Homo sapiens: one gene and its partners. The protein of the gene in region 1 interacts with the protein of each later gene in a biochemical or structural test. Each region holds a gene or a part of one and is shown on either strand. Other genes may lie near its edges. The genes, in order: ATF1, GABPA and RPS6KA5.

What was found.
Region 2: the proteins of ATF1 (region 1) and GABPA form a complex in vitro, tested with the Homo sapiens proteins (one study listed by BioGRID).
Region 3: of the proteins of ATF1 (region 1) and RPS6KA5, one has a biochemical effect on the other in vitro, tested with the Homo sapiens proteins (one study listed by BioGRID).

What each region holds. Positions count from the first base shown.
Region 1 is NC_000012.12:50,815,987-50,821,668, reverse strand, and holds the end of ATF1 (cyclic AMP-dependent transcription factor ATF-1), read right to left. Parts: intron 2,035-5,682; coding exon 1,890-2,034; 3' UTR 507-1,889; downstream 1-506.
Region 2 is NC_000021.9:25,758,932-25,766,051, forward strand, and holds part of GABPA (GA-binding protein alpha chain), read left to right. Parts: intron 1-3,380; coding exon 3,381-3,434; intron 3,435-3,707; exon of another isoform or gene 3,708-4,450; intron 4,451-5,278; coding exon 5,279-5,419; intron 5,420-5,663; coding exon 5,664-5,856; intron 5,857-7,120.
Region 3 is NC_000014.9:90,847,522-90,854,641, reverse strand, and holds the end of RPS6KA5 (ribosomal protein S6 kinase alpha-5), read left to right. Parts: 3' UTR 1-6,781; downstream 6,782-7,120. UniProt on the Homo sapiens protein: Serine/threonine-protein kinase that is required for the mitogen or stress-induced phosphorylation of the transcription factors CREB1 and ATF1 and for the regulation of the transcription factors RELA, STAT3 and ETV1/ER81, and that contributes to gene activation by histone phosphorylation and functions in the regulation of inflammatory genes.

The DNA of each region.
Region 1 (5,682 bases):
TTATGCATTTATGGAACCATTAATGGTTTGCCCTGACCTGTTTCATACAGCTAGAGTAAGTAACTGGGTCTAGTTAGCAAGGCCCTACACCAGAAGTCTGAAGGCAGCAGAGTTTACAAATATTTGCAGATGTCCAGCTGTTAAGGCACTAAGAGCTAGGCTACCTCTGTTGTAAACAAGCACGGTGTCTACCCAATAATATATTATCATCTGTTGAAAAAGTCTTTTGACATAACCCAGTGACCTCATACCTCCTCATATTCTTAGGCCTAACGGGCCACCAGTTTGAGATTCTGGCTTTACACAAGGTAGTAAGTGATATAAGTAATCCCCCTGGCGATCAAACTTTTTTTTCTTTTCATAAAGTGCTGCCAAGTCAACAGAGTCCCATTTTAAAAGACCCTTCTAATGAGAAATTTCATCAGGAGGGTCAAACACAAATGTATCAGTTAAGTGAAGATTTCTACGTAGCATTAGGATAATTAACAGCATGGCCAGGAGCAAGCTTATCATTCATATACCAAGCATTATATTTTACATTCAGTAGACTATCAAATGTCCTTTAATTTCACAGACAACAATATGATGCATACTGTGTAAGAGCACACAATAGTTTTGCAGTACAATTTTAAACTGTATACAAATTGGAATATAGATGTTAAACGCTGGTGTACTGACAGTATTTTTGAATTTTAGATAAACTGCATACAAAATTTACAATGCAAATATTAGCCAATCTGAAAACGTCCCATAATATAAAAATGATACTTTGAGATGCAAATTTTACTAAACTATATAAACATTTAAAATAATCATTAAAAACTCAACATTAGAATTTATAAAGATCAGCTATAAAAATATATTGGCAGTCACTTTTCTTATAAAGGTACCACTCACTACATTACAAAATAGTCTCTAACATAAAATTGCCTTAATAACTATACTATTATAGAATCTGATAAACCTTACATTATTAAATTGATTATAAAATCTTCTTGGAAAAACTTTGGTATGTATCTTCAGAAGGTTTTTTAAAAATAATATTTTAAGGGCCTGTAAACATTCCATTCTATTAAAGCACAGCAGAATAAGTAATGGATATTCAACTGCATACAGAATATAGACTCAAAAAAACAATTTATTATGTATTTGTAGAAAATCATTACCAGAGTAAGCAAAAAAACCAACTATTTAAAAGTATCAAACTTTTAAACAGTTCTTTTTCCATTCTGATAAAAAATGTTATAAAATCACCATACTCCATTCATGTACCTTAGATGCCTTTTAGGATAAGACCTCAAAAATAATTAACCTAGTCTCAAAAATCCATTCAAGTCCAATAACAAACTTTTAAAAACCCACTTAAAAAGACTTGACACTAGAACAAGTATACATAATCAGAACATATACTTTATATATTTAGTAATGTACTAGGTTTTCTCTTACCTTTGTAATTTAGAATTTATTGGCAGAAATTACACACACACACACACATATATATAACTAAAAAAAGGTAAATTTCAGCAAACAAATGCAAACCTGTAGGGTAAATGGATTTTTAAAAAAAATTCAGTTTATCAAATTTCATCTTCTCTGCCATTTTAGATTGGCAACTATTGGTTATTTAGAAAATTTAGACTGCTGAAAGTTCATTTCTTGCTCCTTGAATATGTTTAATTTCTACAAAGCTTCCAGTTGTGCCCGTAGCTTCCTTGAGGTCATTTTCCACTTTCTCCTCTGTCACTAGATATCGTGCGTAAGATATTTATCCTTGATTTGGAAAAGCCTAAATAAAAAGCTTCAGTTTTGACCTTTTAATTTATAAAACTCCACTAGGAAATCCATTTAATTTTTATGCATGTCCACAAAAATATTTTCTTTCTTAGGAATCAAACACTTTTATTGGAATAAAGATCCTTCAAAGTTTTTAACTCTTCTATTAGAGTTTTATTTTGATTTTCCAGGACTGCAACTCGGTTTTCCAGGCATTTCACATATTCTTTCTTCTTTCTGCGACATTCTCGAGCAGCTTCTCTAAATATGAGCATTAAAAAAACAATGTTAGAAAAAACTTCACATTCTTTAAATGGTAAATGTTCTTCAGTAATTTTCCGTGGTCACCTTTTTTTCTCTTTAAAGTATCATCTACACACAGAGAATACATAGATCTTAAGTGTAGAATTCAGTCAGTTTTGGCAATTGTGTATACCTGTATAACCCACACCTCTGTCAAGACAACAGAACATTCCCACTGTCCCAGAAAGTTCCCTCATGCCCCTTCCTGGTCAGCCCCCTTCCAAGCAACTATCGTTTTGATTTTTATCACCAGAGATTAGTTTTTTTCCTATTCTAGAACCTCATGTAAGAGTGTCATACACTATGTACTCTGGTGTCCCTTCACTCAGCCCATCTGAGGTTCATCCATGTTGCTGCATGGGGGTTTGTTCCTTCACACTGCTGGACATAGTTCACTGTATGAATATAACCACCATTTGTGTATCCAGTCTCTTGCGATGTTTCTAGGGTTAGCTGCATAGGCATGTTTTTGTGCCAGTCTTTTTGTAGAAAGGTTTCATTTCTCTTGAATAAATACCAAAGAGTGAAATTATGGGTCCTCTGGTTAACTTCTGACACATGACTTCTTTTATTTAAGTTCAAATTACAAACAATGCTTGAGCAAATACTCAGTTCTGTGCATGTCCTCTTAAAACATTTCTGTGAAGTCATATGTAAGTTTATATACATATAGAAATCGGAAGTATTGGCCAGGCATGGTGGCTCATGCCTGTAATCCCAGCACTTTAAGAGGCCAAGGCGGGCAGATCACCTGAGGTCAGGAGTTCGAGACCAGCCTGGCCAACATGGCAAAACCTCATCTCTACTAAAAATACAAAAATTAGCTGTGGTGGCACATGCCTGTAATCCCAGCTACTTGGGAGTCTGACCCAGGAGGATCACTTGAAGCTGGGAGGTGGAGGTTGCAGTGAGCCAAGATCGCGCCACTGCACTCCACCCTGGGCAACAGAGCAAGACTCTGTCTCAGAAAAAGAAAGAAAGAAAGAAACAGTACTATTTTAAGATTTTTATGCTATATATGTAGATACTATTTGCAACTTGCTTTTTAGTACACATCTTTAAAAGGACTGTACAAAATCTTTCCCCTCACAAAAAGACTTTATTTTTACCTTTAAGCTCTGTTTGTTTGTTTGTTTTAAGTGGTTTCCAGTAAACATTCTTTTTCTTTTTTCTTCTTTTGTTTTGAGACAGGGTCTCACTCTGTCAACCAGGCTGAGTGCAGTGGCACAATCACAGCTCATTGCAACCTTGACCTCCTGGACTCAAGATATCCCCACTTCAGCCTCTCAAGTAGCTGGGACTACAGGTGTACACCACCACACCAGCTAATTTTATTTTTGTAGAGATGAGGTCTCAGTATGTTGCCTAGGCTGGTCTCACTCCTGGTCACGGTGTCGGGATTATGGGCATGAGCCACCCACTCAGCCTCCATTCTTTACGTGTATTTCTACACATGTATTTCTTGAAGGATCACAAGCTATATTCACTTAAAGTCAAGAGATAGTGCCAATTTATATTCATTGAAGTACAGAGAAATAAGGGGGGAAAAAAGGAAGGAAAAAAATCCCAGAGTCAAACCAGAAAGAAAAAAGGGAAAAAATGCCAGAATGTCCTCCAGAGTATTTGTACCATTTACATTCCCAGGGGCAGTACATGAGAGTGCCTGTTATGAACATTTTAAAATGGTTGTCAGTCTAGCGGCTGACAAAAAGCGAACCTCACTGCTTTAACATTTCCCTCATTATGCACAAAGTTTGGAATAATTTCATGTTTACAAGGCCATCTTTCACAGACCGGTTTCCTTCTGTTAGGTCTCTTATTTACAGAAATAAATCTTTATATAACCTATACATCTCGTAATTCTTTCTCTTTATATAAAAGTTGCAAATATTTTTCCCAGTTAACAGACTTATTTTTAAGTTTCTTTATGGTATCTTTTGTCACATACAAGTAGAAATGTTGGGGCAAGTAGATACCATAAAACTCCGTACTTCCCTCAGTAATGTATGTGAGGTACCCTTTTCCTTATATGCCCAATGACAGACAGTATTACCACTTTATAATTTTTGCTACGTGACATCTCATTTCTTATTTTTATAGTTGTAGTATATACGTATATGACCCTAAAACTGCTATCATTTATTTTCTAAAATTATAAAATATCATACTTTGTGTATTCTGTTGCAACTTGTTTTTTCATTCAATTTTTCTAAGATTTATTCATGTTGAAATGATTATTCATTCAGTCATTACAAATAAACATTCCATTCTATAAATACAGTCACAATTTATGTACCTATTCTTTTTTCCCCCCATTTTTATGTTTAGGCTCAATATGTACCTATTCTGTTATCAATGAATCTTGAGGTTGTTTCCTGATTTTTTGCTGCTATGAAAATTCTTATACATACTTCCTCCAAGTTCCTCTCAGTCACACAGACTAAAACAGCTGGGTCACAGAGTATACCCACGTCAACTGTACAAGATAAGGCCTAATTTCCAAAATGGCTGCATCAATTTACACTCCTATAGTAGTATCTATGAATTCCTGACCATTGTTCCAAATCCTTGCCAACTCTTGGTTAGACTTTAAAATTTTTGCCAATTGGGTGGGTATAAAGGGTATCTAAATGTGTAGCATTAATGTGTATTTCTTTGATTACTAATAAGGCTGAGTAGTCTTTTATATGATTATTAACTACTTGTGTGTTTTTTTTTGTTTGTTTTATTTTTGAGACAAGAGTCTTGCTCTGTTGCCCAGGCTGAAGTACAATGGCGTGATCATGGCTCACTGCAACCTCTGCCTCCAGGTTCAAGTGATTCTCCTGCCTCTACCACATCTAGCTAATGTTTTAAATTTTTTTTAGAGATGGGGTCTCCCTATATTGCCCAGGCTGGTCTCAAACTCCTGGGCTCAAGTGATCCTCCTGCCTTGGCCTCCGAAAATGCTGGGATTACACGTGTGAGCCACCACGCCTGGCCTGTATGGTTTTTTCCATTAAAATGTTTCTGTGCATATTTATGGAGCACATGAGAAAATCTGTTACATGTATATAATGTGTAGCGATCAAGTCAGGGGATTCAGGGTGTCCATCACCTGAGTATTAATAGGTTTTTGTTAAGGGTGGTCATCCTACTCTGCTATGAAACACTGAATTTATTCCTTTTATCTTACTGTGTATGGGTTTGTACCCTTTAACTCTCTTCATCCTCCTCCTTGCCCCTCACCGTTCCCAGTCTCTGTTACCTATTTTTCCATTCTCTCTTTTTTCTTGAGATAGGGTCTTGCTCTGTTGCCCAGGCTGAAGTGCAGTGGTGCGATCATGCTGCCTCAACCCCCTGGGCTCAAGCAATCCTCCCACCTCAGCCTCCCGAGTAGCTGGGATTTTAGGCACACGCCACCATGCCTGGCTAATTTTTTATCTTTTGTAGCAATGGGTATGTTGCCCAGGCTTGCATTGAACTCCTAGGCTCAAGTGATCCTCCCGCCTCGGCCTCCCAAAGTGCTGGGATTACAGGCATAAGCCACCACGCCCAGCCCTATTTTTCCACTCTCTACTTCCATGTGTTCAAATATTTTAGCTCCCACATATAAGTGAGAATGTG
Region 2 (7,120 bases), on another chromosome or scaffold:
AGGTGGTGCGTGTCTGTAGTCCTACCTACTTGGGAGGTTGAGGCGAGAGGATAGCCTGAACCTGAAAGGCGGAGGTTGCAGTGAGCTGAGACTGCGCCACTACACTCCAGCATGGTGACAGAGCAAGAGTCTCAATTGGAAAAAAAAGAGAGAGAGAAGTTTGGAAACTACTTGGCTGTCCAAGAAAACAAGGCACAAATGTAAATTATTTTTGCTTGAATTTTAATCCATCTTATATTTCAGTCACTGTTAAGACACCGAAAGCAACCCATTCCTTGACAGTTTTGCATATCAGAAATGCTAGCCAGACCCACATATTTTTCAGAACACATGACTACAACATACTCTGACTTTGCTTTTGTATCAGTTATGGATGAAAATGTTAATGATAGCATTTTGTTTTATTATATACCCAATAAGGAGAGAGCTCTGGTGGAGGGATTTTTCCACCGTAATTCAATGCTTGCAGTTTTCATTCAAGGTGCTTTCTCTGGCCAGGTGCAGTGGCTCACTCCTGTAACCCCAGCACTTTGGGAGTCTGGGGTGGGCAGATCACTTGAGATGAGGAGTTGAAAGTGCTTTCTCTGCTGGTGAATAAGAAATGAGCTCTGGAGAGAGGCATTTCTTAATTGTTTATAATTTTATTCTTGTGAGGATTCTCCCAGATGTTTTTTTTAAGTATCTATGATACTAAAAGACTTAGTACATTCATTGTATTTGCAGCATTTATTTCCAATTTCCATTCTTACTAGATAAGTAAGTTGAATGTCCTGGTTGAAGCTTTGTCCTTGGTTTCACAGATTTCCTTCCCTGCAGAGGTTTTGAAATGAATAAGGTAGATTCTGAATTGTGAAACATGTGAGTCATGTTTATTGAAACACTTTCTTATAAGAAATCTCAAGAACACAACAAAGATAGTGCATAGATGGTAGTTTCATTTTTCCCAAATCCACGTTTTTTCCAGTCTTTCCCAGGTCAGCTGTTTGTTGTGGCTGTCTCTTTCTGGTTCTCTTATTGCTTCTCAAACTTTAAAGCTTATTCATAGGCTTTTCCCAGAACAGAAGTCAAAGGTGTCTTGTGTATCTTTCCATTTCCATGCAGTTGAATGAGTCTTCCTCAGAAAAGCTCTGCTCTGGAACCATTGCTTTGTCTTTTAAAGCAACAAAGTCCCACAGCCTAGATGAGTGTCTCACGGAATTTCTTGGTGATCCAGCCATGGTTCTTCACTCTGCCGGGGTAGGGAAATCCCATCTGCTTTGGAAATCTAGTGCTCAGTTCAGAATTGGGAGATGGGCAGGATGATGTGTAAGGGTATTTCTAACAGACTTTCTAGAATTCACAAGTCTTACTTCTCAGAATAGGGTTTTTTGAGCTCAGTGTAGTTAGTACTCTGGTCCCTTCTGTAGAGAGAAGTCTGCAGCCTATCTGCGAAAGGCACTGATTCTGGGACAGAACTGTTAATAACCCAGCCTCTATTATCCATCCTCAGTGATCTCTCAAGAAGCAGCAGTACTGAAGAGGTAGGGCTCCTTCTTCAGATATTTGTATGAGATTATTCACCTGAGCCACCACCTGCCTGCAGTCCCCCCTATGTTGAAACTACATCCAAGTCCCACTATACATGGGAGGATAATTAGGAAATGTCCCAGTACTACCAGTTCCATGATGTCCTTCTCGGTGTGAATCTCTGTCTTCTGTCACCAAAGGCAAATGAAGTTCTCAGTTTGCTAAGGGTTTTATTTAGGAAAAATAATTGTTTTATTCCTGTAGTGTCTAATGTTTCTTCATAAAATGGCTCCATATCCCCCAGGGCTTTGCCTCTCAAGACTGCTTACTTTGTGTGTAGCAAGGATTTGGAGGTTTCAGGGAGGAATGTGATATTCAGAGTGCCTGTACTTTGAAGAGATTGGTCTTGGACCAGTCTTTCAAAAACTTTTTTTTTTTCCCCCTGTGGTCTGCCTTCTGTCTTGAGAGTTTCCAGGAAACAGACCAAACTCCAATCTGAGAATTAGGACTTAGAAGGTGATTTTACAAGTTGATTATGCCTGTGCTGTGTGATGGTGATGCTTTCGTTTGCCTCTTTTGAGGCTAGGTTCCTTTAGTCTCAAATAGTTCCTCTTTGAGGAACTTTTATAAAATTCTGAGGAAAATTTACTACAAACATAAAGTGCGTATTTTTTTTATCAAGAGAGACCACAGTTCTGGAGGAGAATGCTCAGAACTAGGAGTCTGGATAAAACAGTGAGGTTGTCAGTTGACTGAAAAAGTAACTGTTTTGTGCACTGTGCTTTTTAAAAACATGTTTCTTTAATCCTCACAATAACCTCATGAGGCAGTAAGTATAGGTGTCTAATTTAAACTTGAAGAAGTTAATGTTGAAAGAGGTCGGTAATTTTACCAAAGTCATATAGTCAGTAAGAGCTAAGAACTAAATCCAGATCTGTCTGAAGCCAGTCCCATATAATTCTTAAGTCCTCAGTCTTCAGACCCTCAAAGCTCCCATCTGATAGGATTCTGACCTCTTTTTACTTCCCCAACCTTTTCCAGCTCTGCGTGTCTGGAACTGGATCCTGGCAAGGCACCCTTAGCGGAGTCTTCTTGGGAGCCCAGGCCTCAGTACCCAGAATGATTGCTGGAGGGTATAGTTTCAATTTCAAGAGAGAGGCATGCAATTTGTGATGGGCACAAAGTAGGCTGAAGTAATAGAGACTGGGATGTGCAATTCTTGTGAGAGGTAAAGAATAACATCTAAGTAGGGAATAACAACAGATAAGTAATGAATGGTTCTGTAAAGCCTTATCTCAGGACCTTTATAGTATTTTTATTTTGGGAACTATATTTTTAAATGTGAAATTATTTAGTTTAATTGAGACATTTAGGACTGCTACAATTGTGTTGAAAATTTGCTGTCTTTAAGTAGAAGCATTATAAAGCTTAAGCAGCTTTAGTCAAAAGTGGATGTTATAACAAATAATGGGAAGGAGGCCTTTTTGGTGGAGATACGTACCTAAATAATTTAATTTTGGTGTATATTTTATCTTTGATCTGATCTTGAAGATTTCCATATTTTTACATGGCTTTATGTGGATTTCAATACAAATGTTTACATTTAGAAAACCATAGTTCTCTGCAGAACTTTACTGAACACTAAAAGACATTGGAGCTTTTCCCTGTGTTATTTCTCTTAAGGTATCTTTTCCTTTTAAAGTGACTATCAAATATTTTTAAGGTTTTTATGCCAGTAAGTTTCAGTTCAGTGTTTTGGTTTTAATTGTGGAGTTCTTTTTAAAAGAACCATGTTTATTAAGTTGAGTTTTATTGGATTGGGGTTTTTATATTTTTGGTTTTAAATAAAAACAAAAAATTTTTGTTTTTTTCAGATGTATTGGCAAGTCAAGAACAACAGATGAATGAAATAGTTACAATTGATCAACGTGAGTATTTGTACCTATATTTGCCCTTTTATTAATAAGAAATGTTTATTTGATACCGCAAGGTAATAAAAAGGAAAATTATTTAAAAAAATTTTTTTTCTACACACAAAATATCTTTTGTTCTGTGGAATGAAAGCTCGACACAAGTACTTTATAAGATCCACTCATGTGTTTTTAAATGATACGATTAACATAACAGCTTGCTTTGTATCTCAGTTCACCAAAATTTGTTAGGACATCATTTGTTTCATCTTTACTGACTGTTAATTACCAAGTTGTAAGAACAATTCTAACCACATTCATACCTGACAGAACTTTCATGCCTGATAATAACTGGATATTAGGTAGCATCCAATTGAAATATCAGTATAGGTTGGATACAGCAGAGAAAATATTCAAGTGTCCAAAACAAACTTGAGGAGTTACAATGGGTTTGAAATGAAGAAAAAAGGCCAAGTTAAAATAGGAAAACAAATAGTTTTCATTTGGTGGGAGTTGCAATCAAAGTATACAGTTGTATACATTCTAATGGATCATCTGTCCCATGTGGCATTTTCCAAGGCTTGAAGAGTCTACCAGGGCAAACCCTTCGCCGCCTCCACTACTTTTGCTTGGCTTTTCCCCTTTCTTTTCTCTCGCTTTGCCTTCAGCTTTATTCTTTACCTTTGATTCATCTATATTGGGTACTGTACTTGCTAGAAGTACAGTCTAGAAGAGTCTTTTTGTTTCTCTTAATATCCATCTCCATTTTCATGTCATCTTTTCCATCTTTTACCTCATGTTGCATTTTCTCTTGGCATGTTTGGGTTTGGGTACCACCACAGTTGCTGTCTCTTAAACATCTTTCATTAAAACATTACTGTCTAGTTTGAGAATACTTTTAAGCCTGCTGAGCTCTTTTGGGGCATTTTTCCCCCCTTTTCAGCATGCATCTTTCTTTTCCGCTTATGCCATAAGCTTTTAGCTATGTTTTACCTGAGGTACGAACACACACGTCACAAGATCATCCCAACCGGCTAAAATTTTTAATGAGGAATTTGAGATACACAAAGAAAGTATAACTAACACCTGTGTACATCATTAGAAATAAAATTTTTTACACCAAGTATACCTGTTGTAGGTTTCATTTTCCTCTCTCCTACCAGAGAACTATCTTGAATTTTATGTTTATTACTGTCTGCATATTTTATATTTTTACCAACTATGTAATCGTAAACACTGTATAGCATTGTTTTCCACATGTTTAAACATTGTTTGTAAAATAATACATTGTACATATTATTTTATAACTTTTTTATCATTTGAGAATTACTCATGTTGATACTTGCAGCTGTTTCATTCATTTTCACTGCTGTATCTTTTAAATGCTGTGAAAACATCATTGAATGAATATTTGTAAGAACATGTGTGAGATGTTCGTGTCATAGGGTTTCTATCCTTTCAGCCTTACTCCAGATATTGCCAGATTCTCAAAGTGGTGGTGTGAATTCTCATTTGTCCACATTTAGTACAATATATTTGACAAACCGTTTTTATGAACAAATGTTTTAAGAACAAACATGTTTAAATACTCTTTGTCTAATGTGTATGCATCACTAAGTTATTTCCAAACAAGAATACTAGCTCTTACTAAGATGCACAAACTATAATGCAAGCGTTATACTTTACCATCTGAACTTTTTTGTTATTTTGTTTGAAATTGTGGATTGAGGCTTTCTGTAGTGAAGTACTTTCTTGGGGGTAATTCATAGGGCATTAGTTAAAGTGATAATGTCTTTCAGTAATTTTTTTTTTTTCCTGCTTGTATTGGAAGAAAAAAAATTTCTCCTTGTCTGTCTTTGCAGCTGTGCAAATTATTCCAGCATCAGTGCAATCTGCTACACCTACTACCATTAAAGTTATAAATAGTAGTGCGAAAGCAGCCAAAGTACAAAGAGCGCCGAGGATTTCAGGAGAAGATAGAAGCTCACCTGGGAACAGAACAGGTATTTTTGTATTTTCTTGTATTTATAAAATATATCTATCTAATTAGGTATATTTTGTTGTATTTTACTGTATGAAAAATGTGAATTTGGACTATCCCTCTGGCAGTTTTTAGACAGCATTTCTAGAAAAACAAAAATTGTTTTTGCCATGGCTGAGATTTAAACCACGGGACCAGTTTGTTGTCTTTGCCTTGGGCTAATCTATAACACTATAGCTAATGCTTTGTTCCTCTTACCAATTTAGGAAACAATGGCCAAATCCAACTATGGCAGTTTTTGCTAGAACTTCTTACTGATAAGGACGCTCGAGACTGCATTTCTTGGGTTGGTGATGAAGGTGAATTTAAGCTAAATCAGCCTGAACTGGTTGCACAGAAATGGGGACAGCGTAAAAATAAGCCTACGATGAACTATGAGAAACTCAGTCGTGCATTAAGGTAAGCCTTTATTACTTTTTTTTCTGTTATCAAAAATAGAAACTTTCTAAAAAATAGTTTCTTATTCTAGATGTAATAAGCATTGTTATGTAATGATATTAAAAACTTGTTTATGTTTTTTTCTTTACATATTAAAAAACCTTTTTAAAAAGATCTTAATAATTTCGAGGTACAGTTTTTTTTTTACAAAATTACTCTAAGATTGTTTGTTTTTATCTGATTTGAAAGCTATAATACTCTGTCCCAAAAAAAAATGTTTAATTTTTGAGGTTTTTATTATTTGCATAGATGAATTGAGTGTTAGTTTTTAATGAGTAAGCAGAAACTGTCCTCTGTTTTTACAATTACAAGCAGAATATTGACCCATTTTCTACACAATCTGCCTAAATCTGGATATCCAATCTTTACATTGATACAAACTCTCCGTAAGTAGTATAAGGTTTTTTGACAGAAATTACTATCAGAAATTATGCCTACTACAGTGATGGAAATTCAACAGGTACATTTAAGTATCTGAGAAGAAGGATATATAAGAATATCACGGAATTATGTCTGATTTTTTGGGAGATTGAATATAGTAAAATAGTTCTGCAATTCACGAGTTTTTCTAAATAGCATGCTTTTACTGCTTCTTCATGTTTCACTTGGCCATTTTCACACTGAAAGATTATAATTTAGCTCACACACACACACTCTCCCTTCCCCTTTCCATCCCTTCATCTCAGTATCCCAATATAATTATATGGAAATTTTGGTTCAGCGAGTATTCATTGTTACAGTATTACGGCCATGTAACTATTATTACATAGTTGGCTGTGATTATTTTTCTTTTCCTGAATGACCCTTTTTTTCTCAGAGTTCATGAGTAACTAAAATGTTTAGTTTTCAAAATGCTTATCCTTTACCATTCAGTCTCAAACACATTGCCAACTGTCTAAAGATTCTTCGTTTATAATCATAATTAAAGCTGCCATTTTTGAGAGTTGATACAGATTGTATACATACAAGTCCCCTCAAAATTACAGGTAAATTGTTAGAGTTAATAATTAAGATGTCAGTTCCCCCCCAGATTGATCTAAGTTTCAGTGCAGCAACTTAGTTTAATTTGAAAAATCAAACTAAGTTTTTCATAGAACTTGAGAAGATAATTGTAAAATTTACATGGGACTATAAAGTACCATGGTAGTCAGGACACCTGAAGATTAGCAAAGTGGAAAGACTTGTCCCACAGGATATTGAGACTGACTCTAAAGTTACAGTAATA
Region 3 (7,120 bases), on another chromosome or scaffold:
TTGAGTAAAGTCTACTGTTAAAGTATTCCAGATTTTTAAATTCCAGTGTCCTTGCTGTGGAATCTAGTGTTGGCTTTCTGATGTCAGAATAATCAAACCCTGCTCATATACACATCCAGAAAACTTTTTCTAATGATGATACATTTAGCAAAATCGCAAGTCTTTAAAAATTCTAGTTAAATAGACTTACTTGAGACAAGTGTACATTGTGAAATCTAAAATAAAAATTTGTGACTATATAATACATAATCTTCATTATGTAGGCTATTTCTAAAAACTTAGTTTCTGTGCTGATTTCATGTTAAGTTTTTCAAACGTTAGCAGATTATAATGGCTACAGTAAGTTTTGTTCTAAATCTGGTAGCCATTTATTATTAAATGATTAATGATTAAACATTAATCATTTAATAATTACTTAGGAATTATAAATTACAATGTCAAATCTTCATACATCAGGCTCCTTGCACTATAATTACTTAAAATTAGTTTGCATCAATAGTCTATATAAACAGATATCTTAGTTTAGAGGAAAAAATATTCTATTTTCTAGGTACTTTAATAGTTTGGTCTTGTGAAAATTACATAGGTGTGTGTTTATGTATGTGTATACACACATGTATTGGGGGCTTACAATACCAAATTAATAAGACTGCCCCTCACTCCTTAAATCGACTATCTGCCCTGCCAGTAATCCCCCACCTGTACTGGTATATACAGAGTTTTCTCTGGTACAAATGATTAATCAAGAAAAAGGGTGTGAAATATTTGTGTTCGTTTCTTTTTAAATGAATAATGGGATACACATAAACTAGTAACACCACATTGATTTCCTAAAGACCTAATACAGCTTTAAGAGGGAATAACATTCCAGAGCTCCAGGATTATTTTAATTTAGCTTTCAAGATGGTTACGATTTTGATTTAATATAGAGACTTCATAGTGTTAAATTTTAGGGTTTTTTTTTTTTTTTTTGTATTTTTAGTAGAGATGGGGTTTCACCATGTTGGTCAGGCTGGTCTCGAACTCCTGCCCTGATGATCTGCCTGCCTCGGCCTCCCAAAGTGCTGGGATTACAGGCGTGAGCCACTGTGCCCAACCTAAATTTTAGGTATTTAAAACATCCATTGATGCTTTGTTTTGTTTTTGGGTTTTTTTTTTATTGTTGTTACTTAAGGGATGCATCTTATTTATTTGGTTGACTTTTATCTAGACATCATAAATGTGATGCTTACTTTTTTATTAGCCACTTCATTGTTGATGTCTTAATGGGAGATCTTAGTTTGATGAATCTACTCTTTGAAATTTTAGTTTGATTAGTCATTTGTTTCTGCTAGGTTTTGGCTTTTGTTTTGTTTTTTGAGTGATAACCTAAGAAGTTTCTACAGTGGAAAATATCATTATGACATCTTCATCCCTTATAAAGTTGTTTCATTTAGAGGAATTTTTCAAAGCCTATGTTGAGAAATGGGCAAATTAAGTAAAGCATCATAACAATTTTTTTTATAGTGAACTCATTTTATTTATAGAACGGCAAACACATTCACTCTTTTTGCTAACATCCGGGGCTTTTTTCATTGTGACTGCTTTGCACACTTAAAAATGTTTCTCCCAGGCCGGGCACGGTGGTTCATGCCTGTAATCCCAGCACTTTGGGAGGCCGAGGCGGGCGGATCACAAGGTCAGGAGATTGAGACCATCCTGGCTAACATGGTGAAACCCTGTCTCTACTAAAAATACAACAAAAATTAGCCGGGCGTGGTGGCAGGCGCCTGTAGTCCCAGCTACTGGGGAGGCTGAGACAGGAGAATGGCATGAACCCGGGAGGCGGAGCTTGTAGTGAGCCGAGATCGCGCCACTGCACTCCAGCCTGGGCGACAGAGCAAGACTCTGTCTCAAAAAAAAAAAAAAAAAAAAAGTTTCTCCCAGCAAAGGCTAACTGGAATTTATTTTTGTTTAAAGACAAATACTTTTAATGTGGATAAAATAAAAGTTGGAAGTATGCCTTTCATGTGGCAAACTGGAAATTAGTGGTTAGTACTCCATTGCAGCATTAAATACCAATTCTTTACAATAGGGTGCACATATCAGATGCTGTTTTTCCCTTAACCTTTGCACTTTTCATTGAAAATGTTTTCAAATCAAATCTTGTTTTATTGGGTTTCACATGATTGGACTAATACTTACATATATGCTTCTTTTTAAGGTATTTAGACATTGACAATTAGTTATTTCCTTATGAGCCATAGCTTTGAAAAACCATTTTAGAAGAAATTTCCATTTTTTAAACAAAAGTGTTGGGAGGCCGAGGCGGGCAGATCACGAGGTCGAGACCATCCTGGCTAACATGGTGAAACCCCGTCTCTAATAAAAATACAAAAAATTAGCCAGGCATGGTGGTGGGCACCTGTAGTCCCAGGTACTTGGGAGGCTGAGGCAGGAGAATGGCGTGAACCCGGGAAGCAGAACTTGCAGTGAGCCAAGATCGCACCACACCACTGCACTCCAGCCTGGGCGACAGAGCGAGACTCCGTCTTAAAAAAAAAAAAAAAAAAAAAAAAGTGATTTTTTAAAGAAAAGATACCGATAATTTGTCTTTGCTGTAGATGAATGCCACGTTTTTATATACTAGGACTATTACTGAATAATACTGTTTATTTCTTTAGATCAACGAATATATTAAATTCTGTCTTTTTTGTTCAAATAAACGCTGTGAGATGATTGGGAAGGCTGTGTGTTGAAGTTAGATGCAAAGTTGGACCTTGTACAGTGAGCCTCTTGTGAGAACTGAGCCATGAAAGATAAAGCCTGTCATTCATGTCTGCCTTGGCCTGTGCCCAGCTTTATTAGTAAAAACCATTCAGTTTTTACTAATGATATCTACCAGTATCTAAAGAGAAATACCTTCATCCTCTAGAAGAAAACAAGGTTACCCAAAGAGCTCACTTAATTCCTTCCTTTTTCCCTGAACCCTTGGTTTTAAGTGAAGAGTAAAATGTACTAGATATGACACTCTCTCTGAGTATTACTGAGGATTTTGTGGAAAAGGCAGTTTGGTACTTTATTTCCAGCTTAGCTGCAGACTTGGTGACCCTGAGCAAATCACTCAGCCTCCCTTTGCCTCCATTTCTTCATCTGTAAAATGGGGTTAACCTGTGCCTCCCTGTCTCACCAGCATACTGAGGGATCGATTAAAGAGGATTAAAAAAATCCATAAGGTACACTGATTCCAAAGATGGGTAGAATGATATTTAATAATGAAGACTTTCTGTTATATAGCAATTTAATTTTAAAAGTATCTTTACCAGGCCAGGTGCGGTGGCTCACTCCTGTAATCCCAGCACTTTGGGAGGCTGAGGAGGGTGGATCACGAGGTCAGGAGATCAAGACCATCCTGGCTAACACGGTGAAACCCCGTCTCTACTAAAAGTACAAAAAAATTAGCCAGGCATGGTGATGAGCGCCTGTAGTCCCAGCTACTCACGAGGCTGAGGCAGGAGAATGGCATGAACCCGGGAGGCGGAGCTTGCAGTGAGCCGAGATCACGCCACTGCACTCCAGCCTGGGGGGCAGAGTGAGACTCTGTCTCAAAAAAAAAATAAAATAAAAGTATCTTTACCCACTTCTCTGTAGTGAATATTGACTAGCATTTTGAAGTAGGAACTAACAAAGTATAAAATTAAGTAGATTTTTTATATTTATGGGTATTGTTCTAGTACAAATTTATGGTGTACACTGTCGGTCTGAGTGTGGGTTTAAAATATATCATTGTGCTTGGCTAATTTGTAGAATGTCTTATTTGAATTGACTTCATTTATTTCAGAGGAATGCATAGATGATCAGATCAAACTGTCGTCATAGCAGTGTTTTCAGCACATACGAGAATCTTAGAGTTTAGGAGCCTTAGAGCTCACCCAGTGCAATTTCCTGCCGGAAGCAGATTCCTTCCTGGTGACCTCACCAACAGGTGCTTGTGCAGCCTTTTCCTGAAAACTTTTTGGGAAAGTGGGGGCTGCTACCTCACTACTTTGATGTGTACCTTTTGTTCAAGAACTTTCTAAAACTTGGAGCTAATCATGGGTTATTTCAGAAGATGTAAGCATTTTAAGTTTTTTATTGAATTCCATCCTTATTTAAAAGGCCTGGTTATGTAATATTTTCTGTTTTTTTTTTTTTTTTTTGTATGGTTTCCCACATTGATTAGGTTGTTTTCTTCATTTTCTTAATAGATTAAAAATACTTTCTTCTCTTTCTATTTGTGTCTTCTTCCATTTAGTATTTATGGGAGGGAGCAAGAAGGGAAAGGATGTCTATTTTTAAAATTGACTACAATCATGACTGTTCTTCTTGTCATTCTGTAGCAGCTGGATTTATTACCATCTCTTATTTAAAGGTCCTTCAGAACACGTTGAAGCAGTTCATTTCAGGTCAATGGCTGGTAAGCAATGTCAGGACCTCTGGGGAAGGAGAAGCTGACGGGATCCCAGAGGAAAGAATTGAGGTTGTTTGCTCCCTTGTAGAAAGCCCACAGATCCCTTCCCAGACTAGAAAAAAAGTGCCAGAGTGTCCTGAAACTTTCCTTCTAAGGCACATACTTCAAAGAGACTGGGGATTCCTTTGTTTTAAATATAGGTGGGGTCTCACAGTGTTGCCCAGGCTGGGCTCAAGCGATCCTGCCACCTGGGCCTCCCAAAGTGATGGGATTACAGGCATGAGCCACCATGCACGGCCATGGAGATTCTAATGTGGTGCCAGCTGCCAGGTAAGAAAGCTGTGAGACAATGTGTTGATTTTCCTTTACTACGTCAGGTTTGAGGACATCATCTAGCATCAACGGGTAACGTCACCCTTTGTTCCATCTTTGGGAAATAATAGTAGTAGCTTGTTACTGTTAGCTGACCCCTACATTAGCATCAATAAAGTAAATCCCTTTAACTTTCCTTTTGGCCTTTCCTTTCTCTCTCTCTGCCTCCCCACCAGCCCCGACTCTCTCCTGTGTGCGTACACATCCACACACACCTCCATGGTATTCCTTCTTTCTCCCACCTAAGGGAAGCTGTGCCCGATCTTGCTGCAGTCCAGGTCACCGTACTGAGATGAGTCAGCCACAGACTCTAAACACTAGCAGCGATTAGCCGTATGTAGCCACCAAGTGCACTGTTTTAGACAGGTTTACACAGCTCTTTGCTGTCCACTCATATCAGCTGTGTAGTAGCCCAAGGCAGCCTGTCAGGCAGAAGAATTACCAACCAAAGTGGATCTATTCATAAGATAAAAGATCCGGAGTCCGTGCCCTCTTAAAAAACTTTTGTCTTCAGACATATGGGTGCGTGTTCATCTCTGGCCAAAACTTTGTTTCCAGTTTCAAAGGGCTGGTTGCGAAGGTGGCCTTGTAACCTTTCTGTTGCCGGCTCTGTTAGTTGCCTGATAAGCAGTAGCTAATTCATCCTCCTCAGAATTTGAGAGTGGCATCTATTAGATTCAGACCACCAAGGTGCCTGCGCGGGCTCTCCTGGTTACGACTGAGTCCCCTTTTCTCATCTGTGGGGTGAACGCTTCTATTTGCAGAAATTTGCTTGCATCTTTTTCCTTTTATTTATTATTACTTTTTAGAGATGCGGCCTTGCTCTGTTGCCCAGGCTGGAGTGCGGTGGACTCTTTTCTTTTGTTGATCTTTGCCATCCTCTGCCTGGCTTAATGAGGTTCTTTCCCTGCGTATTTATGTCCCAGGAGCTCACCTTCCCCCTAGGTTTTTAAGAAGGAAGCAGAAAATGTTACAAAGTATAAGGGATTCTATGAAGTCCATAGATAGGATTTGCTTTGGGAGTAGATGATTTCTTCTTATTTTGGTGTAAACATCAATTTGGATGGCAATTAGAATGTCTTTAGCCTCTTTAAAAAGCCCTTCTGGGGCAAACCTTTGCAAGTCACTCAGCTGGCATGTAATGAGATTTTTATTTGCATGGCTTTTTTTTTCTAAGTCTCTCTAGAAGAACATAAGGACATTCTGAACATGCAAGGAATACAGTTATTCTCACATCAAGGATCAATTTTATTTTGTATCTTCATTTTATGTCATTTTCCTTTATTTTATTCACATTAATCTAGCATTAATTCCCCCCAGAGGGAATGATATTTTTGGTTGCTGCCACCTGTGTTATTAAGTGACAGCTTTTCTTTATCTGCTTTTCTGAATTTCATATTTATATACTTTATTGTAGTTTTTTAAAATCTATTCTAGCTGGGCTAGAATCTTCCAAGTATTAATTCATAATGAACTTCCCTCTTCTGGAATTGTTTAGGAGGGCTAATGTTCCATGTTCCCTTCGTTGCTATAGATATGAAGTTATTTCGATGTTCTTTGAGTGCTTTATTATAGCGATAACTGGTACTGCCTTTGATTAAAGGTGAGCTATATGGAGTTAAGCATTTTTATACTAGTAACTATTTATTGAGAATTTTCAGAATTCTATAGCTACTTGTCTTTAACAGTTATAAGAGGCATGTATTTTTTTTTCCTTCATGGTCTGGAAGTTAGTTTTCTCTTTGTTTGGGTAGATCGGAATGAGTTGTTGAGCTGTGTTGAAAACACACATGAATCAAAAAAGCAGATGTATTGTAGAAATGTGATGTTTTCATGTTTCGGGAATTTGACCGGAAAGCTTTATGTATGGGTTTTATTTTTAACAAAGCAGTAAGGGCTTACTTTTTACCAACTTGTGTGTGTGTAAAGATGTATTTGTTCAAGCTTTAAGAATAAACCTGTCAATGTACAAATGCCTGATATCTGACTTGGACTTGTGGTTTGTTTGTTTGTTTGTTTGTTTGCTTTTCGGGGCGTGGGGGTAGGTATGTTGGATCTTGGAAATAAGTGAGAGTGTTAAAGAAGCACAACAATCTGTATCAGTGAATTTACATCTTAGAAGACTCACATTAACTTATGCTTGAATGAAAACCGTGTGTGGATAACTGAATGCAGCGTTTTCTGAACTGCCCTGAAGGACGGCTTAAAAGGAGAAGGAAGCCACTCGCCCATTTAGTGTTCTGAAAGGTCTTTTCCCCTAGGACCCATTCATGCCTCCCTTCATCAAGCCCCCATCCTTCGAGGGTTCCAGAAAATGAG